6 linked regions of the Homo sapiens genome follow. The protein of the gene in region 1 purifies or fractionates together with the protein of each later gene. This does not show direct contact. Each region holds a gene or a part of one and is shown on either strand. Other genes may lie near its edges. The genes, in order: DNAJB14, GRPEL1, TTC1, UQCRC2, DNMT1 and DNAJC7.

Region 1 (3,500 bases):
TGTTGAAAAGGCTATCTTTCCTCCATCGAACTGCTTTTGCATCTTTGTCAAAAAACAGTTGGCTATATTGGTATCAGTCTATTTCTGGGTTTCCTATCTCGTTCTATTGATCTATGTGTGTATCTCTCTGCCATTACCACGCAGTTTTGTTTACTGTTTATCTATACAGTAAATCCTGAAATCAGGAACACTGATTACTCCAACTACATTCTTTTAACAGAAATAAATGTTTTTAAATATTCAGGTTCTTTCTTCCCCTCATATGAATTTTAGAATAAAACTTGTTTCTATCTACAAAACAAATCCTGCTAGGATTTTGACAGGAATTGTGTTAAATCTGTATATCAATCTGTGATGACTTGACTTTTTTTTTTTTTTAAGACAGAGTTTTGCTCTTGTTGTCCTGGCTGGAGCGCAACGGCGCGATCTCGGCTCATTGCAACCTCCACCTCCCAGGTTCAAGTGATTCTCCTACCTCAGCCTCCTGAGTAGCTGGGATTACAGGCATGCGCCACCACGCCTCGCTAATGTTGTACTTTTAGTAGAGATGGGGTTTCTCCATGTTGGTCAGGCTGGTCTAAAGCTCCCGATCTCAGGTGATCTGCCCACCTCGGCCTCCCAAAGTGCTGGGATTACAGGTGTGAGTCACCGTGCCCAGCCGACTTGACATCTTTACTATGTTGAATCTTCCCATCCATGAACATGATATTTCAGTCCATTTATTTAGCTATTTTCTGATTTCTTTAATCAATATTGTATAGCTTTCAGTATATAAATGTGATAAAAGTTTTATTAAACTTACACCTAAGTATTTTTTTGTATGTATGATTGTAAATGCTAATGTATTATTAATTTTAGTGTCTAAATATTCATTGCTAGTAAATAGAAATGCAATTAATTTTTTGTAGATTTATATTGTGTCCTGCAATCTTACGGGATTTGCTTTGTAGTCACAGTTTTTTCTGTAGATTCCTTGGATTTCTACATAGATAATCATGTCATTTGCACATAACAACAGTTTTAGCTCTTCTTTTCCAGTCTGTATGCCTTTTATTTCCTTTTTCTCTCTTTAACGCAGTGATTACTACTTCCTGCACTTTGTTGAATATGAGTGGTAAAGAGATATTCTTGCTTTATTCTTGATCATAGGGGAAAAGCATTCAGTCTTTCACCATTTAATGTTAGCTTACAGGAGTTCTGTAGTTGCTCTTTATCAAGTTGAGGCAGGTCCCTTCTATTGCTATTTTTCTGACAGTTTTTATCATGAATGGGTGGTGAAATGTATCAAATGCTTTTATTCCACTGATTAATATAATCGTGGGATTTTTTTTCTTTAATTAATGTGGTGGATTACACTTATTGATCTTCAAATAGTGAATTGACTTTGCTACCTTGAAATAAACTTCTATTGTTTGGGGTATATAATTCTTTTTATATACTGCAAAATTCTGATATTTTGTTAAGGACATTTGGGTTTATCCCACAAAGTATACTGGTCTGTAGTTTTTTTTTTTTTTTTTTTCTGTAATGTCTTTGGTTTTGATATAAGCAAGGTAAAACATTTCTTAACATTAACTGGAAAATGTCTCTTCCTCTTCTATTTTCTGGAAGAGATTATGTAGAATTAGTTTTAATTCTTCCTTAAAAAGTTTGGTAGACTTCTTCAATAAGAGCATCTGAGCCTGGATATTTCTTTTTTGGGAATTTCATAATTACAACTTTAATTCACTGAACAGTTCTGTCTTAGTCCATTTTGTGTTGCTATAGAAAAATACCTGAGACTAGCTTATGGTTCTATAGGCTGAAAAGTTTGTGGGCATAGCCTTGGCTTCTGGTGAGGGCTTTTGTGCTGCATAACATGGTGGAGAAAATCAAAGGGGAAGCAGACAGGTGCAAAGAGGGGAAAACCTGAGGGGTGTCCTGGCTTTATAACAACCCACTCATTCGGGAAATAATCAATTCCTTCAAGAACTAATCTAGCCTCAAGAGAGCAAGAACTTACTACTGTGAGAACAGCAGCAAGACATTCATGAGGGATCTGCCCCCATAACACAAACACTTCCCACTAGGCTACACCTCCCAACACTGCCACATTGAGGATCAAATTTCAATATACTGAACCAACCCAAATGTCCAACAATGATAGACTGCATTAAGAAAATGTGGCACATATACACCATGGAATACTATGCAGCCATAAAAATGATGAGTTCATGTCCTTTCTAGGGACATGGATGAGGCTGGAAACCATCATTCTCAGCAAACTATCGCAAGGACAAAAAACCAAACACCGCATGTTCTTACTCATAGGTGGGAATTGAACAATGAGAACCCTTGGACGCAGGAAGGGGAACATCACACACTGGGGCCTGTTGTGGGGTGGGGGGAGTGGCGAGGGATAGCATTAGGAGAAATACCTTATGTAAATGACGAGTTAACGGATGCAGCACACCAACATGGCACATGTATACATATGTAACAAACCTGCACGTTGTGCACATGTACCCTAGAACTTAAAGGATAATAAAAATATATATATAAAATAAAAAATAAAAATAAAAATTAAAAAATTTCAATATACCCAAACCACAGCAATTTCTACAGGGCTATTCACGTTATCTATGTCAGACTGAGTTGTGATGATTTGTATTTTTCAACTAACTGGCCCATCTCATCTAACTTGTAAACTTATGTATATGGAATTGTTCATAGTATTCTCTTATTATCCGTTTGATGTCTGCAGTGATATCCTTGTCTCTGACACCATTTCTGACAATGGTCATTTCTGTCTTCTTTTTTTGGTCAGTCTTTCAATTTTATTGATTTTTTTCAGAGAACCAGCTCTGTTTCATTGATATTCACTATTGTTACTCTTTTCAATTGTACTGATTTCTACTCTTATAATTTCTTTTGCTTGCTTTGAGTTTATTTTGCTATTCTTTTTCTAGATTTGTAAGGTAGAAGCATAGATAACTGATTTGAGGCTGTTCTTCTTTTCTAACATATGCATTTCATGTTACAAGTTTCCTCTCAGCATTCCTTTAGCTGGTCTTCTCAAATTTTAATTGTTGTATTTTCATTTTTAGTTAGTTCACTGCGAGCTCCGCCTCCCAGGTTCATGCCATTCTCCTGCCTCAGCCTCCCGAGTAGCTGGGACCACAGGCGCCCGCCACCACGCCCGGCTACTTTTTTGTATTTTTAGTAGAGATGGGGTTTCATCGTGTTAGCCAAGATGGTCTCAAATTCCTGACCTTGCGATCCACCCACCTCGGCCTCCCAAAGTGCTGGGATCACAGGCGTGAGCCACTGTGCCTGGCCAAGTTAGATCAATATGTTTTTTCAAATTTGTTTTGATATTTCCTGTTTGACCCATGGATACTTAGAAATTTGTTGTTCAGTTTCCAAGGACTGGACGTTTTCCTATTACCTTTGTGTAACTGATTTCCACTTTGATTCCACTGTGGTTAGTGAACATACTTGTATGATTTCAATATTTTAAA
Region 2 (3,335 bases), about 93 Mb from region 1:
ATACTGTGGCCTGTTTCTTGGTATTCCGCCTCTCTTTGTGGTAATGTGCTTTGTTGGTTCTTACCCTTTCCGACCTGTAAATGCCTGGGCTCTTGGGACTCAGTACCAGACCTCTTCTCTCCCCTTGCTGTGCTCCCTGGGTGACTTACATACTCTTACGGGCTTAGTGGCATCCACACACAAGTCTCAGCTTCAAACTCGGATCTTCCGAGTTCCAGTCCCCTAAATCTTACTGCTTGCTTGACATCTGGGCTTGGATGTCTCAAGGGTATTTTCCCCTCTACTGCACTCCTTTCTTCACATTTTAGTGAATTCTAAATTTAGTAAATTCTGGGTCTCATCCCACAAGTAGCTTTTGAGAGTTTTGTGTTGTTTTTTAAAGTTATTGAGCCATTGGAATTCTGAGGCGATTGATTTGACAAGTTACTAAATAGCCTCCACATCAGGTCAGCAGTGCTCAGTTTGGAATTGCCCTGTGCGGTTGGTATGGAGTGCAAATGATCTTCTTTAACTTCATCCAGGCATTCAAGCCTTCTGCAAGGACTTGTTGGAGGTGGCAGACGTTCTGGAGAAGGCAACACAGTGTGTTCCAAAAGAAGAAATTAAAGACGATAACCCTCACCTGAAGAACCTCTATGAGGGGCTGGTCATGACTGAAGTCCAGATCCAGAAGGTGTTCACAAAGCATGGCTTGCTCAAGTTGAACCCTGTCGGAGCCAAGTTCGACCCTTATGAACATGAGGCCTTGTTCCACACACCGGTTGAGGGGAAGGAGCCAGGCACAGTGGCCCTAGTTAGCAAAGTGGGGTACAAGCTGCATGGGCGCACTCTGAGACCCGCCCTGGTGGGGGTGGTGAAGGAAGCTTAGCTGCTGTTGATGGGGTGGGTGTTTTTAAACTCACTTGATGTAACTCTCAAGGCTGGTTCATTGTTTCTCATCTATGAGTACGTGTGACCTTTTCCCAAACCTTATTGGAAACCTTAAGTAACCAGTGGCTAAACAGAAAAGCCGGTTGCCCAACTGCATTAATGAACTCTAATTCGGGAGTCTGTTCCCTTTTAGTGCCACGCGTTGAATAGTTCCACATACTTTCAGAAGAGCTCAGCAGGGCCCTGCCTGGTCTCCCGAGCATCATGAGTAACGTGTCTGCTCAGACTCTGCTGACACCAAAGTATTTTAAACAAATAAAAGGTCTTGGGGAATTCTGTTTGGCTACCTGGGCACGCCAGTCTGCACCATGTGTCCCTGCGGCGCATGAGTGACTGGCGTATTTAGCCCGTCACATTTCATTCGCTGAAGGAAAGGCAAGAGAGTTGAAACATTTTTCTTACTTAAAAAAAATGATCTTTGTGAAGAACATAGTGAGTTCGTTTGTCTTCAGTCAACAGCGGCTGAAACTGACCACTGAGAAATGGGTGTGGGCACTGACAGTTCTCCCCCATTATTTGGCCAGGAATTGAGCTTGGCTTGGCAAAGTTCCTTTTACCCTGTTCTGTTCATCTAAATGCAGACATATTTAAATCATATTCAACTAGTTACTAATGACCTCAAGTTGTATTCCCTGGCAAAATGGACTTTCTCAAAATAGGACTGCACGCTTGGTGTACTTTAAATGTTAATGTTTAATTTAAAATTTTTATTTAAGAGGATTAAAGCCCTAATGTTTATTTTCCTACTTTCTGAAAACAATTTTGTGTCCTCTCATGGAGATCCTTGCCGCTGAGGCAAGCATGGCTTAGCCTTCCCATTCTCTACTCCAGCCCAGAAGCTGTCAGCTTGACACGTGCGTGCGTGCACATTCACGTACACACATATACAGGCTTCTACACAGAAAGGGAGAGCCACACTCCCCCAGTGCAGCTGCAGCCCGTCCGGTAAGAATACGAAACACCCAGGAGCCACAGCAAGGGCACAGGATTTGCAAAATCATCTTGCCAAAGGGCTGTTCCTCATTTACACGGTCATCCAGGGCTTAGAAAAAGGCTGAATGATTGGCGTCTGTTACAAAAAAGAGAAAAGAACCTTTCGCTGCCTTTGCTTCTAGAATGGAAGATACTTGTGAAAGCCATTTGCTGCACAGGAAAGATGGGGCAGTTTATTTCACTTCTAATTTTAAAAGACGCAAGTAATGGTCCCATAATACTTCATCTTGGGATACCATTCCCAAACATGTTCCACCTTTAAGATGCCTTAAGTTAATTTGGTCAGAAACAACTAAAGGCAGCATCGTGTATTGAAGAAAACATGACTGGGAGCTCCAGCGCTGCCTGTTTTCACGCTGTGGGGTTGTGAGTGCATCATCACCCCTGGAGCTCCCGAGTTAAATGGAGGCTAAGAAAAGTAATTTATCAACTCATTTCTGTGAATGTTTGCAGTCTCCTACCGTCTCAACTACAGCTGCAGTTGCTAAAAAGCACTTAACTCGTAACCTAGAGGCAATATAGCTTAAGTAGCAAAATATTTTTTTACAGTAAGCTTCAGTCATCCATAGTCACTATAAGTTGGTTATCATCTGAAATGCTTAGAACCAGAATTGTTTCAAACTTGGGGGGTTTTCGGATTTTGGAATATAGTCAAGCATGGCTTAACCACAGGGATGTGTTCTGAGAAATGCGCTGTCAGGCAGTTTTTCCTGTGAACACCATGTGTACCTACATGGACCTAAAAAACAGGTGGTGGAGCCTCCTCCACACCTAGGCTATATGGTGTATGTAGCCTGTTGCTCTAGACTGGAGGGCACGTTACTGTACTGATACTGTAGGCAACTGTTAACACAATGGTATCTGTGTATCTGAACATAACATAGTAAAGGTACAGTGCAAACTGTGTTCTAATATGTGGCCCCTCATTGACTGAAAAGAGATTCTCTGCTTGACTATTTGCATTGTATTTGCTGGTTAAGTATCCCCAATCCCAAAATCCAAAATGCTCTAAATGAGCATCTCCTTTGAGCACCATGTAGGCACTCAGAAAGTTTCAGATTTTGCAGCCTTTCAGATTTGGGGATACTCAACCTGTAATAGGAAAATGTCTTTTAATTATGTGCATATTTACAGTAGGAATTAAAGATTTGTTTAGCTACCTTCTAGTAGTTACTGGATTTAGCATAACTGCAGCATGAGTGAAGTGTCACGTGTGAACAGTGAAAACCAGAACTGGAAGTCTCAGAGGCATCTGAAAAGTCGGCCTGGCTTCCTGAAAGACTCAGACCCATTTGGCTTTCTCTGGCTGTACTGCTGCTTTGAGGGAGGAGAGCACCTGGCACGAAAGGGTCTCTGCTTAAGAGAAAGCAACTTTAGGTCGGGTGCAGTGGCTCACGCCTGTAATCCCAGCA
Region 3 (3,500 bases), on another chromosome or scaffold:
AATTCAGTGCAGAAACATGCTGTACAGGTTTGTAGCCCAGGAGCAATAGGTTATACCATATAGCTTAGGTGTGTAGTAGGCCATACCATCCAGATTTGTGTAAGTATACTCTATGATGTTTGCACAATGATGAAATCACCTAATAACACATTTCTCAGAATGTATACCCGTTGTTAAGTGACTCATGACTGTACTTTAAAATGGCCAACTTTATGTTATCTGTATTTTACCACAATAAACAAAACAAAAAAGGTTTCAGGGTCATCTGGGACCTTTTTTTATTTCTCTTTCAATGTTCAGCATACCAATTCAAATATCAAAAACTCTAAGAAGTCCTGTAAGTAATCTGTATAACTTTATATAAGTCAATATTTTTTCAACTTATCACATTTCTATAAGTCAAAGACACACAATTTCACAGTTTCTGAAATAGAAATAAATCTTTACAATTTATGTGTACAACTGTTGTGATGGTATTCTTTGTGTGCCTAGAAGTGATTATTAAGCTGTAGTGCATCTTATCCACTGTCTCCTCAAATCAAGGAATTATGGAATTTTATTGCAGAAACTTTTGTTTGAGGCTCATAGTCTACTAATACCTCAGAGGACCCAGGTGTTGTCTGCTGCTTACAATGGTAGTCCCCAAAGTGGAGTGTGTGGGAAAAAAAAAAAAATCACAACTTTACCATTCTTTCATAATTTTTATATATAGGTAGCTATCTATCTATATAAAACAGTATACATAATATATAGTGACAAAACAAATGTACACAGCATATAAGGACAAACAAATCTAACTATACATATAAAACAATGTATATAATATATAAGGACAGTAGTTAAAAAAAAAAAAAAAAAGAGAACCTACTCTTTTAGGGCTCTGCTCTTGTATAGCTAGCGAGACCTAGAGCTGAAACTCTGCCCTAGCTCCAGGTTACCTTTTCTCTCTCCAGATATGAAATGTGAAGCGTGGCCAGGGGCACTGAGTCAGGGATGCTGAGCTTGCAAACCTGCCTTTCAGAAATTCTTCATCTTTACCTCTTAAAGCAGTTAAACCATCATTTCCTTGAAAAACTTAGAATATAATATGCTCCTTAAATTGTGTCAGGGTACTAATCCTAGAAGTTATCAAGTCTCTCATTTTAGAGTCTTCATAAAGTATTAAAAATGCAACTTAAGGCCGGGGACGGCGGCTCACGCCTGTAATCCCAGCACTTTGGGAAGCTGAGGTGGGCGGATCACGAGGTCAGGAGTTTGAGACCAGCTTGACCAACATGGTGAAACTCTGTCTCTACTAAAAATACAAAAATTAGCCTGGCGTGGTGGCGCGCACTTGTAATCCCAGCTACTCAGGAGGCTGAGGCAGGAGAATCGCTTGAACACGGGAGGCGGAGGTTGCAGTGAGCCGAGATCACACCACTGCACTCCAGCCTAGGTGACAGAGTGAGACTCCGTCTCAAAAAAAAAAAAAAAAAAAAAGAAACGCAACTTAAAAGAACAGAAAACTTCACCAACAAAACTATTCTTTGAACAGGCAACAATCATAGAGCAACGCTCTTTTGAGTTCTCCTCAGATGTGACAGACAAAATACTAACAAGACCATACATTTTCCTAACTCAAGAACCAGACTATTTATGTGAGCCCAAACCTAGAAATATCAATAACTTGGGCAACTGTAGAAACAAAGAATCCCAAATCCCAGGAGCCAACTGGGTATGGTGCATTTCCTCTGATACTGAAGGCACATCCTTGATCCTATTTCACAATGACAATGTCCAGTCTAAAAATGTGGCAAAAGGGAGAAGCAAATCTAAAAGATCAGAATTTTCCAGGTAAGTGTAAAAACTGTTAGATGTTAATTCTGATTGCTGGTGGGACACATTAATGAATATTGTTTTAAATAAAGTTAAACCAATTGTTTTGTTTTCTCTAATACAAAATGTTGGTTTGTATACTATAAAATTATTTCTTCTCTCATGCCACATGAAATACTCCAAAAATACTCTGCTTTGAAGATTGAATCTTACACAAGTTCTGGTAAAAAAAAAAAACCGTAACCTTTCTGCATGTCCAAGCATTCAAGCACCCACCCCCGCAACCCTGCCCTGGGGCCTTTAAAAAAAACAACAACAACAAAAAAAACCTTGTCACCTAAAGTGACTGTGGTAGAGGCATTTGAGAATTTCAGACAGTATCAAAGAGATATCTGATCTAAACAAACAAATGAAAACACTGCCACTTCCAATCTTGAGCCAGCATCATGGTTGCTTAAAGGTATGTTAAATAACCTATCCTTTGTACTTTGGATGTAAGTAGCCATAGTTTAAAAAGTGGTATGGTTTAAAAAAAAAAAAAACCACTCTCATTTCAATCCAAGGATTATGAAGACTAAATCGGAAAATCAGACAAATCAGAAACAAATCTAACTTTTTTTTTGAGACAGAGTTTTGCTCTTGTCGCCCAGGCCAGAGTGCAGTGCACTGCAACCTCTGCCTCCAGGCTTCAGCGACTCTCCTGCCTCAGCTTCTTGAGTAGATGGGATTACAGGTGCCCACCACCATGCCTGGCTAATTTTTGTATTTTTAGTAGAGATGGGGTTTGACCATGTTGGCCAGGCTGGTCTCGAACTCCTGATCTCAGGTGATGTGCCCGCCTCGGCCACCCATAGTGCTGGGTTTACGGGTGTGAGCCACTGCATCTGGCCCAAATCTAACTTTTAATAAGGTCATGGTATAAAACAAATATATTTGTACTCTCACCTATTCCATACTCACCTTGTTATACTAGGTTCTCAGTCCTTTGGAAATACAAAATGTTTTCAAAGTTCCTTGACACCTATTTTGCATTTAAGGGTACCTTTTATCCCAGCTGTTGGAGATTTCTCCAAGTGTCCATACTTTGAACAGAAAAGTCAGAATCCTGGGAATAACCATCTTTAAAGATGCTTTAAAGCCCAGAGTTTTTACCAGTGTTTCCCTGTGCCTTTGCATGTTTATCTAGAATTCCAGAGGCCTAAAATAAGGATCTAGAGCTATTCTAGGACATGCACTGCTTGGCTCATTGCTTCATTAACCTGACCTAGTTTAGCAAAAAATTTGCCAGCCCTCCTTCCATGAAAGTATTCACTCAGCTACTTTAATGGGGAATGTTAACAGTAATCTGACTCAAGTTTTTCAAAAGATTTTCTATTCTCCCTGTGGCCTTTACATCAGGGAAATATATGGGCAGGAAAAGGGAGGCAGCAACCTCTATGCTAGTTTCTGGAGAGAAACTATGGTATGAAAAGACTGCAAGTCCATGTGCTTTTTAAAAAGAAAAGGTCACAGATACATACCTGTTTCATCCTTGCTGCAGCTCTATTTGAAAATAGAATCGACCTCTCCTTTTGGAAGCAGGATGGGCACATTTCGAGGGCTCGACTATAAGAACTTTCAGCTTCTATATAATCTGAGGATAAGAGAAAGGATGAATGGTCATTTTGATTTTATTCCTGATACTA
Region 4 (3,500 bases), on another chromosome or scaffold:
ACCAAGTAAAACAGGGCACGATTTCTTTAAGTTTGCCTAGAAAAAACTTGGACCTTCACGGTATAAACAAAATAGATTAATATTTTACTTAGCCAGTTCTGTCACGAACTGAAGTATTCTGTAAATAGGTTACCTCTTTCAGAACTATCACGGCTTTGTTTTTTCATTTAAATATTTCTAAAATGACTGCTCCCTTTCCTTTATGCTGGGTATTTTCTAACCTGCTTTAGATGATTAAAGGTTTATGCAAACACTAATCTGCAAACATTATTATTATAATATAGATAGGCTTTGGCATTAGGCAGACCAGGTTTCTTCTCTCTGCTGTTGGTAGGGACTTTTTCACCAATTTACTTTCATTTCTCTTATACACTCATGTCAGAAAGTTAGAGAAAAATTTCTGCTTAGTGGTCATTATCCAGATGTCCAAGCTATCAAGAGTTTAACCTCTGAATAACAGGGATATTGTTATCTAGTTTGAGCAGAGCTTTTAGCTCTCTAGGGTGAACCCGATTTGCAGTGTTTATGTGGACCATTTACATAAAAATTATCTAAGTTCTTATTAAAAATACAAACTTTCAGATTCCCAAAATGGACCTACTGACTCAGGTCCCTGTGGATGCAGCCTGGAAGCCCAGATTTTTAACAAGTGTTCCAGGTAATTCTTATGTACAATAAACTTGGAGAACCATTGGCTCAGTCCACGTAAAGCATAAGAAGGCACTTCAATTTCTTTTATTTATTTATTTATATATATTTTTGAGACAGAGTCTTGCTCTGTCACCCAGGCTGGAGTGCAGTGGCACGATCTCAGCTTACTGAATCCTCCGCCTCCTGGGTTCAAGTGATTCTTCTGCCTCAGCCTCCCAAGTAGCTGGGACTACAGGCGTGCGCCACCACGCCCAGACAATTTTTGTATTTTTAGTAGAGACAGGGTTTCACTGTGTTAGCCAGGATGGTCTTGATCTCCTGACCTTGTGATCCGCCCAACTTGGCCTCCCAAAGTGCTGGGATTACAGGCGTGAGCCACTGTGCCTGGCCTGGACTTCAATTTCTTTAATTATAATTCTGAGGCCATCCTATTTATACTCTAAATTTCTGGCTGAGTTCTGAACTAGGAATTTCTATTAAATTACTTCATTGGATTAGGAGAGATGGGGGTTTCACCACGTTGGCCAGGCTGGTCTCGAACTCCTGACCTCCAGTGATCCGCCCACCTCGGCCTCTCAGAGTGCTGGGATTTTAGTTGTGAGCCACTGTGCCCAGCCTCTCATTTTTCTTTTCAAATTTAATCTCAAGCTGAATGAGTGAGTCTGTAAACAATTTCTTGGTGTTCATCTTGTCCACTTGGTTGGAAAACAAATAGTGAGATTCAGGAAGTAACCAAAAGAACAGAAGCGGACAGAAGAAAATCTAGAAAAAAAGACTAGTTAGAATCTAGGGGAAAGTTTAATATCTACAACTTTATTCTAAAGGGAACGGATGTGTGGATTCCCTTTATTTCTAAGCATTCAATTCCTCTTTTTATATTACTAATGACAAGTAATAGACAAAGTGGAAAAGCCAGTGAGTTTTTGATAGGCCTTCAAAGATACTAAAATCAAGCCTGGCTATCTCTTCAATTGTACAAAGATTTTCTGTGTGTTTGTCTTACATTTTAAGAGTAGATTATCAGAATTATATCTTAAATACTGAGCCTTTGAAAGCAAAAAGAGAGATACCAACTGTTCAGACTCACATCAAATGGCTGCTGAGTTGCCTTGGCAACAGCCTGGTGCAGATGGCTGGTGGTGTTGCTGCCCCTCTTGACATGTGGCCCAGCACCGAGGACATGCTGAAGAACACTAAATGCATTTGCCTCTGCACTTCCCGCGACAGCACTTTCTGCTACAAAAGCAGCATGGACAAGACTGTCTCCATTCTGTTCTCGGATTTCACCTGGGGCCAGATTAAGGATAGAGGGAAGAAGAAAATGGCTTGTTCACCATTGGTTTCATTCTCCAGTATTTCCTACAACACAGTATTAACCCACGAGTCTTTTCTGCAGCTCGGTGCTTTCCCCATGCCATCCTGTCCCCAAACACACACAAAACATATGCTCAAAATACAACACCCAAGCCATCCAATTCTATGCCGAGACTGTTCAGTAGTAAATATTCAGGCCTATTCCACCTCAATATGCTATTCTAGTGGGGAAACGCCCTTCTGATAAATTAACCCTAATAGAATGAAATGCTTACCTCCACGGTAGTTGGCCTTTGCACCAGATAAACCAAGCCCACCCCTCATGTTGAGAAACTGTTCAGCAACTTGCTTTAGAACAGGATGACTCACACCTGTTTCAACAGAAGCAAAAACAAAGCTAGAACCACAATTACTAAAACACAATCGTAAAATATTTTTTCCTTGTTTTAAAAATACGATTGTAAAATCCTAACACTACAAAATAAATAAGAGTCTTCCTGCCATAATGCCACTCTCCCAGAGATACCCAATTACAGTTTACTATTACTAAACTATTTACTATATACTTAGTATTACTATTCATCTAGAATTTTCTGTGTAGTTAATATTATCTTCAATTTATTTCTAAAATGGTATCATTCTATTGATATTGTTTCTAACTTATCTTTCATAATTTACAAATTTCTAAGTGAGTAGTCTACATCAAATATTTAATGGTTATAAAGAATCCCTTTCTATGGCTCTACCACCATTTATTTGATCAATCCCCTCCTAATGGACGCTAGCATGTTTCTAATAGTTAGCTCTTAAAACAACATTGCATTGTCCATCAAAGAACACTGTATCAAGAAAGTAAAAAGAGGACCCATGAAATGCAGGAAAATATTTGCAGATAATATATCTGCTAACAGCTTGAGTAACCAAAATATATAAAGAACCTTTACAACTCAACAATTAAAAAAAAAAACTTAAAAATGGGCAAAGACTTGAATAGACATTTCTCCAAAGTTGACTGGGCACGGTGGCTCACATCTGTAATCCCAACAGTTTGGGAGGCCGAGGCAAGTGGATCACCTGAGCTCAGGAGTTCGAGACCAGTCCAGCCAACATGGTGAAACCCCATCTCTATTAAAATTACAAAAATTAGCCAGGAATGGTGGCATGCACCTGTAATCCCAGCTACTCGGGAGGCTGAGGCCGGAGAATTGCTTGAACCTGGGAAGTGGAGGTTGCAGTGAGCTGAGATTGCGCCACTGCACTCCAGCCTGGGCAACAGAGCAAGCCTCTGTCTCAAAAAAACAAACAAACAAAAAAAGTTATACAAATGGACAAAAAGCACATGAAAATATGTTCAATGTCATTTGTCATTAGGGAAATACAAATCAAAACTACAATGACCACTTCCCACCCAGTAGGTTGTTCATAATCAGAAAGACAGACGATAAGTGTTGGTGAGGATGTGGAGAAATCAAAACCTTTGTGCATTGCTGGTGGGAATGTAAAATGGTGCAGCTACTTTGGAAAACAGTCTGGCA
Region 5 (3,500 bases), on another chromosome or scaffold:
CATTTGAACCCAGGAAGCAGAAGTTGCAGTGAGCCGAGATCATGCCACTGCACTCCAGCCTGGGTGACAGAGCGAGACTCCATCTCAAAAAGAGTGGACCCACCGAAAAATGTTCATGCCCTAATCCCTGGAACCTGTGAATATATTACTTTACGTGGCCAAAGCGATTTTGCAGATGTAACTAAGAATACAGACCTTGAGATGGGGAGATTATCCTGGATTATCTGGGGTGGGCCCAATCTAATCACTTCAGCCCTTAAGAACACAGAACCTTTCTAGCTGCAGAGAGCGGGCAACGTTGGAGGACGGGTCAGAGAGAGATGCAACCCGCAAATGCTGACTTTAAAGGTAGAGGAAGGGGGCATGAGCCGAGGGATGAGACCGCCTCCAGAAGCGGGCAACGACCCTCAGTTTAGAACCAGTGAAGAAAATGGGACCTGAGTCTTACAACTACCACCTTCTGCCAACACCCCAAAATAGGAAACAGATTCTCCCCTGGAGCCCCCAGAAAGGAATGCAGCCTGCTTACACCTTGATTTTCATCCGGTGAAACCCACATCAGATTTCTGACCTGCATAAGGTAATAAATGTATGTCCTTTAAGCCGGCAAGTTTGAGGCAAGACCCTCCACCTGCAAAAAGATTATGAATCGCTGAAGACTCAGATGATTTTTTTTTTTTTTTTGAGACGGAGTCTCGCTCTGTTGCCCAGGCTGGAGTTCAGTGGCATGATCTCGGCTCACTGCAACCTCCGCCTCCCAAGTTCAAGCAATTTTCCTGCCTCAGCCTCCCATGGAGCTGGGACTATAGGCGTGTGCCACCATGCCTGGCTAATTTTTTTTGTATTTTTAGTAGAGACGGGGTTTCACCGTGTTAGCCAGGATGGTCTCGATCTCCTGACCTCGTGATCTGCCCACCTTGGCCTCCCAAAGTGCTGGGATTACAGGCGTGAGCCACCACGCCCAGCTGATTTTTTTTTTTTTTTGAGACAGAGTCTCACTCCTTCACCCAGGCTGGAGTGCAGTGGCACAATCATGGCAAACTGCAGCCTCGACCTCATGGGTTCAAGTGATCCTCCCACCTCTGCCTCCCGAGTAGCTGGGACCCCAGGTGCATGCCACCACTTTTGGCTTTATTTTTTTTTTTGAGATGGGGGGGGTCTTCCTATGTTGCCCAGACTAGTCTTGAACTCCTTGGCTCAAGCGATCCTCCTGCCTTGGCCTCCCAAACTGCTGGGATTACAGGCATGAGCCACTGCACACGGCCTAGTCTAATAACTTTTACACATACTAGGAAACCAAAATGTGTGTGTGACTCACTTTCTTGCTAGATTCACTTTACTGCAGTGGTCTGGAACCAAACCCACAGCATCCCCACTGTACACACAGTACCACGTAATAACCAGTGATGAAGGGCTTTGGACAGGTGCTGCTCTCAACATATCTGTACTGATAAGCTCAGTCTTCCTAACACCCCTGTCGAGCAGGCAGCCCCACCCCCTTTTTATAGATGAAACACCAAGGCACCAAGAAGTTCAATAACTTAGCCATACGGCTGGCAAGTAGGGCGGCATTTGAAACCCAGCAGTCTGTACCCCTAGAATTCTACCACAGGGGAGCAAAACAAAAGAGGTAAGTCAATTTTGCCTTATTCAGTATGTACTCAGTAGTAGCCAAGGAACTGGAGTTAAGGAGTTCAAGACCTAGCTTAATCCCATCACAGAATGACTAGCAGTAAGAAAGCTGTGGTAGTTACGAAAGCTAATCAGTTGTGCAAAGGAGTCTGCTAGCATCAGTGTTAATCCAGGCTGTACAGGGGAAGAGCTGGCATGCAAGCATTTGAGTCTACTGTGCTCCAAGCTGCAGATACAGTGAATACGGCAGACACGCTCTGGTAACAGACCCTGAAATAATCACTAATTTCAGTGTTATAATGGCACCATGCGGGATACACCGACAAAATTCAACACTCTTTATTGTGGAGAAGCAAGCCTAGCTGTCTGAGAGCAGGCTTAAGAATGAATTAAAAGGCCAGGCACGGTGGCTCATGCCTGTAATCCCAACACTTTGCGGGGCTGAGGCAGGCGAATCACTTGAGTCCAGGAGTTCAACACCAGCCTGGCCAACACGGTAAACCCCGGTTTCTACTAAAAATAAGAAAAAGTTAGCCGGGCGTGGTGGCACATGCCTGTAATCCCAGCTACTCAGGAGGCTAAGGCAGGAGAATCACTTGAACCCGGGAGGGGGAGGTTGCAGTGAGCCAAGTTCGCACCACTGCACTCCAGCCTGGGCGACAGCACAAGACTCTGTCTCAAAAATAAAATAAAATAAAATAAAATAAAATAAAATAAAATAAAATAAAATAAAATAAAAACAATGAACCGGCTGGACACCATCATACCTGTAATCCCAGCATTTTGGGAGGCTAAGATAAGTGGATCACTTGAGATCAAGAGTTTGAAACCAGCCTGGTCAACATGGCAAAACCCAGTCTCTAATAAAAATACAAAAATTACCTGGGCTTGGTGGCGGGCGCCTGTAATCCCAGCTACTTGGGACACTGAAGTAGGAGAATTGCTTGAACTCGGGAGGTGGAGGTTGCAGTGAGCCGAGATCACGGCCACTGCACTCCAGCCTGGGCGACAGAGCAAGGCTCAGCCTCGAGGGGGAAAAAGAAAAATTAGCTGGGCGTGGTGGTGCACACCTGTAATCCCAGCTACTTGGGAAGCTGAGACAGGAGAATTGCTTAAACCCGGGAAGCGGAGGCTGCAGTGAGCTGAGATCACACCATTGCACTCTAGCCTGGGCCACAGAGCAAGACCCTGCCTCAATTAAAAAAAAAAAAAAATCTAAGTTTCAAGTACTGTTGGATACCATGTTTATTTTTCATTTAATGAAATATTTTCAAAATGTAAAAAAAAAAAAAAAAGTCTGTGGAGTGAGTCATATAAACTACAATTTCAATGTCTACCACATGGTCAAAAGCAGTCCTCCAAAACTCCAATGCCTACAGTGAAGCAATCTGAGTGTAAAGAAATGTGGAACCCAGGGTCAGTGGTGGATTGTAAGGCTCACCTAATGGTATTCCAATTCAGCCAAACAAAATATTTGCACAGGGCCAACAGAGCCCCTGAGCCAGTGGCCTACTGGCAACCCCTGTTGAAGGGAAAGGCTTTGGCAAGCAGCAGACCTTAGCAGGAATTCCTGCTTCCTGGCAGTTAACTCCTGCAGCATCCACTTTTAAGAACTCTTGAGGAATAATGGCCGGGCCCTGTGGCTCACGCCTGTAATCTCAGCCCTTTGGGAGGCCAACGCAGAGGATTGCTTCAGTCCAGGAGTTCAAGACCAGCCTGGGCAACAAAGCAAGACCCTCATCTCTAAAAAAAAAAATTTTTTTTTTTTCTGAGACAGAGTTTCGCTCCTGTTGCCCAGGCTGGAGTGCAACGGTGCAATCTCGGCTCCTGGGTTCAAGCGATTATCCTGCCTCAGCCTCCCGAGTAGC
Region 6 (3,500 bases), on another chromosome or scaffold:
GCCTGCAAAGGCTAAAATCTGGCCCTTTGCAGAAAGTGTGCCAACCAGTGGAGTAGAAGGAAAAGGACTACCTTAAACAAACAAACAAAACCACAAAAACACAATCTGTTCTTTCATATATAGCTCAAGTACCTGCTATACTACTATACTCCTGTATACCCTACGGGTTTTCAAAGCTGGTCTAATCTTTGACTTTAAGTCCCAAGAGGGTCTGATCAGCCCTAGCTGGCCTACTCTGGGGACCATATCCTGTGGTGAAGCTGCCGGACACCATCAGTCCAATGGTATCTGGCATTTTAATGTCCAGCTAGCCTGACTGCATACCTAGCCACAGACTGTGCTTCTGGATAACGACCCAGCATTGCTAAACATTCTGCCTTGAGGATTTTGAAGCGATGGCAGGCAGGGGCAAATTCTAGGGCACGGTCCATGCAGAAAACAACCTGTAGGGAAGAAGAAAACAAATAAGGCTCTTCATCAGGGACTCCAGAAACATCTTCACTTTAGTTTAGTCACAGGTAACAGACTCAAAACTCAATGAGGTCTTTGGGTCCACTTCTAAGTAATATCAAAGTTTAAAAACATACCTAATTCATTAAATAAAAGCACTGAAATGAGGACAGCAAAGGCTCCAGATGATAATGAGGACAGTAAACATTTACTGGGTACTTTCATATATGAACCCATTTAATCCTCACAAGAATTTTATGAAATAGGCAATATTATCACTTTTTTTTTTTTTTTTGAGATGGAGTCTCACTCTGTCACCCAGGCTGGAGTGCAGTGGCAGGATCTTGGCTCACTGCCACCTCTGCCTCCTGGGTTCACGCCATTCTCCTGCCTCAGCCTCCCGAGTAGCTGGGACTACAGGCGCCCGCCACCACGCCCAAGCTAATTTTTTTTTGTATTTTTAGTAAACACAGGGTTTCACCATGTTAGCCATGATGGTCTTGATCCTCGTGATCCGTCCTCCTCAGCCTCCCGAAGTGCTAGGATTACAGGCGTGAGCCACCACACCCAGCCTTAAAATAGTTATTTTAAATGGCTCTAAATAGGCTACATCAGATTACTATTCCCAACATGCCACTATACAAACCACAAGCCAAGGAGCAATCACACACACAAAAAGGTGGGGATTAATTTACTCTTTCAGCCTCATAAAGCATCTCCATATATTCTGTTTTTCTCTTTTTACTAGTTTGTCCTCTGAGCTTTCAGTTTTGGTTTAGCTGCTATTTATTCCTGGGAGAGCCTTGCTGAATCACATTCACGCCGAGAATAAATGAACCGAAGGACAAATCTGGAGTTAAGGGACACCTATTCCCTCTAAGAATTTGGCCATGGGGGTCAGGAAGAGATAAACTCTGAAAACTTACAAGCAGAAAAATTCAAATTCCATCCACAGGAGACTGGTTAGTTAACATGGACATTCATATAATGGAATACTATATAGTTCTAAAATAGAATGAAGAAGCTCTTCATGTACTAATATGGAAAGACTTCCAAGAGCTACTCAGTGATTTTTTTTTAAAGGTGCAGACCTGCCATAAAGCATACTACCTTTCACGCTAAATAAAGGGAGAAAATCAAGGATCTTTATTTTATATAAGTACAACAAAACTAAGGAAGAAAATAGAAGACATAAGAACAGTGGTTAGCTTAGGGGAGTGAGAACTGGGCGGAGAGAGGACAAGTTTGAGGGGACACTCATCACTGAATATTTTTCATACTTTCTAACTTTTGTTTGTTTTGTTTTTGAGATGGGGTCTTGCTCTGCTGTTCAGGCTGGAGTATCAGTGGCACAATCATGGCTCACTGCAGCCTCGACTTCCCAGACTCCAGTGATTCTCCTGCCTCAGCCTCATGAGTAGTTGGGACTGCAGGCACACGTCACCACACTCAGCTAAAATTTTAAATTATCTGTAGAGACAGGGTCTCAATAAGTTGCCCAGGTTGGTCTCGAACTCCTCGCCTCAAGTGATCCTCCTGCCTTGGCCTCCCAAAGTGCTGGGATTACAAGCATAAGCCACTGCATCTGGCAACACTTTCTAGTTTTTGAACCATGAATAGCACCTATTCCAAAACTGAAATTTAAAATATGAGCAAGTCAGTAAACACTACCACATTACCAGCTGTTTCACTGAGAAGACTTTCTGCAGTGTCACACAGCAGTGACAGGAATGCCTCTCCTTCAGTGGCACAGGTTTACTGTCCTGAAAGTTTTCTGTTTTTTTGTTTTTTGTTTTTTTTGAGATGGAGTTTCGTTCTTGTTGCCCAGGCTGCAGTGCAATGGCATGATCTTGGCTCACTGCAACCTCTGCCTCCCGGGTTCAAGCAATTCTCCTGCCTTTGCCCTCTGAGTAGCTGGGATTACAGACATGCGCCACCAGGCCTGGCTAATTTTTTGTATTTTTAGTAAAGACAGGGTTTCTCCATGTTGGTCAGGCTGGTCTCTAACTCCCGACCTCAGGTGATCCGCCCACCTCGGCCTCCCAAAGTGCTGGGATTACAGCCATGAGCCACCGCACTCGGCATGTCCTGAAAGTTCTAAGGACAATATGAAAACTTAAGCATTATGTAGGTAGAGTTGTGCTAACTGTCCTGCCCCCCCAGATGGAAAAGGAATGAGGGGGCAGGAAAAAGTCAGTCAAAATGTCAGCAGCCACACCCTGTTGCCTTCACAAGGACCCCGTTTTATGCAGAGCTGGTTCTGCTAATCATGGGGATCGTCAGTGCTTCACTTCCCACCCCCCAACCTCCCCATGACTAGGGACAGCTGCAGGCAAAGAAGATCTTTTGTTTCTTCCAAGTTCATCTGTTTCCCCTGCCAGGATCATAATTCTTCATTTGTGACATCACCGTGAGCTACAGTGGGGGGGCTGGGATGTCACAAACAGAGGATTCTGTCACAAACTCAGGATTCTGGCTCTGGAGTAGGCAAGAGAGAAAAGAAACCCAAAAGACCACCTCTCAAGACAAAGCTTTTGCCTATGTAAACCTCAGAAAACTGACAGTAGGCAGAATTGCTTTCCAAACACACACATGCCAAACAAAACAAACTTATGAATTACATTACAAAGACAACTGTGGTTATTAAAACCAATGGACAGAAGAGGGATGCTAATAAGTTACTGCCGGGACTCTGCATAAGCTAATCAGATATATACATTACCAAATAAAAGACCATCAGTCAATGTGAATGATTCTTAATGTATCCTCTTATCAAAACATTTACTGAGGCCAGGCGTGGTGGCTCACGCCTGTAATCCCAGCACTTTGGGAGGCCAAGGCGGGAGGATCACAAGGTCAGGAGATCAAGACCATCCTGGCTAACACGGTGAAACCCTGTCTCTACTAAAAACACAAAAAATTAGCTGGGCGTGGTGGTGGCCGCCTGTAGTCCCAGCTACTCAGGAGGCTGAGGCAGGAGAATGGCATGAACCCAGGAGGCGGAGCTTGCAGTGAGCCGAGATCCCGCCACTGCACTCCAGCCTGGGCAA

Evidence for each region.
Region 2: the proteins of DNAJB14 (region 1) and GRPEL1 purify together in Homo sapiens (affinity purification with mass spectrometry, with the first as the bait; one large-scale study listed by BioGRID). This does not show direct contact.
Region 3: the proteins of DNAJB14 (region 1) and TTC1 purify together in Homo sapiens (affinity purification with mass spectrometry, with the first as the bait; one large-scale study listed by BioGRID). This does not show direct contact.
Region 4: the proteins of DNAJB14 (region 1) and UQCRC2 purify together in Homo sapiens (affinity purification with mass spectrometry, with the first as the bait; one large-scale study listed by BioGRID). This does not show direct contact.
Region 5: the proteins of DNAJB14 (region 1) and DNMT1 purify together in Homo sapiens (affinity purification with mass spectrometry, with the first as the bait; one large-scale study listed by BioGRID). This does not show direct contact.
Region 6: the proteins of DNAJB14 (region 1) and DNAJC7 purify together in Homo sapiens (affinity purification with mass spectrometry, with the first as the bait; one large-scale study listed by BioGRID). This does not show direct contact.

What each region holds. Positions count from the first base shown.
Region 1 is NC_000004.12:99,912,119-99,915,618, forward strand, and holds part of DNAJB14 (dnaJ homolog subfamily B member 14), read right to left. Parts: intron 1-3,500. UniProt on the Homo sapiens protein: Acts as a co-chaperone with HSPA8/Hsc70; required to promote protein folding and trafficking, prevent aggregation of client proteins, and promote unfolded proteins to endoplasmic reticulum-associated degradation (ERAD) pathway.
Region 2 is NC_000004.12:7,058,395-7,061,729, reverse strand, and holds the end of GRPEL1 (grpE protein homolog 1, mitochondrial precursor), read left to right. Parts: intron 1-521; coding exon 522-868; 3' UTR 869-2,835; downstream 2,836-3,335. UniProt on the Homo sapiens protein: Essential component of the PAM complex, a complex required for the translocation of transit peptide-containing proteins from the inner membrane into the mitochondrial matrix in an ATP-dependent manner.
Region 3 is NC_000005.10:160,036,639-160,040,138, reverse strand, and holds part of TTC1 (tetratricopeptide repeat protein 1), read right to left. Parts: intron 3,449-3,500; coding exon 3,336-3,448; intron 1-3,335.
Region 4 is NC_000016.10:21,970,361-21,973,860, reverse strand, and holds part of UQCRC2 (cytochrome b-c1 complex subunit 2, mitochondrial precursor), read right to left. Parts: intron 2,337-3,500; coding exon 2,241-2,336; intron 1,939-2,240; coding exon 1,739-1,938; intron 1-1,738. UniProt on the Homo sapiens protein: Component of the ubiquinol-cytochrome c oxidoreductase, a multisubunit transmembrane complex that is part of the mitochondrial electron transport chain which drives oxidative phosphorylation.
Region 5 is NC_000019.10:10,188,454-10,191,953, forward strand, and holds part of DNMT1 (DNA (cytosine-5)-methyltransferase 1), read right to left. Parts: intron 1-3,500. UniProt on the Homo sapiens protein: Methylates CpG residues. Preferentially methylates hemimethylated DNA. Associates with DNA replication sites in S phase maintaining the methylation pattern in the newly synthesized strand, that is essential for epigenetic inheritance.
Region 6 is NC_000017.11:41,989,940-41,993,439, forward strand, and holds part of DNAJC7 (dnaJ homolog subfamily C member 7), read right to left. Parts: intron 444-3,500; coding exon 325-443; intron 1-324. UniProt on the Homo sapiens protein: Acts as a co-chaperone regulating the molecular chaperones HSP70 and HSP90 in folding of steroid receptors, such as the glucocorticoid receptor and the progesterone receptor.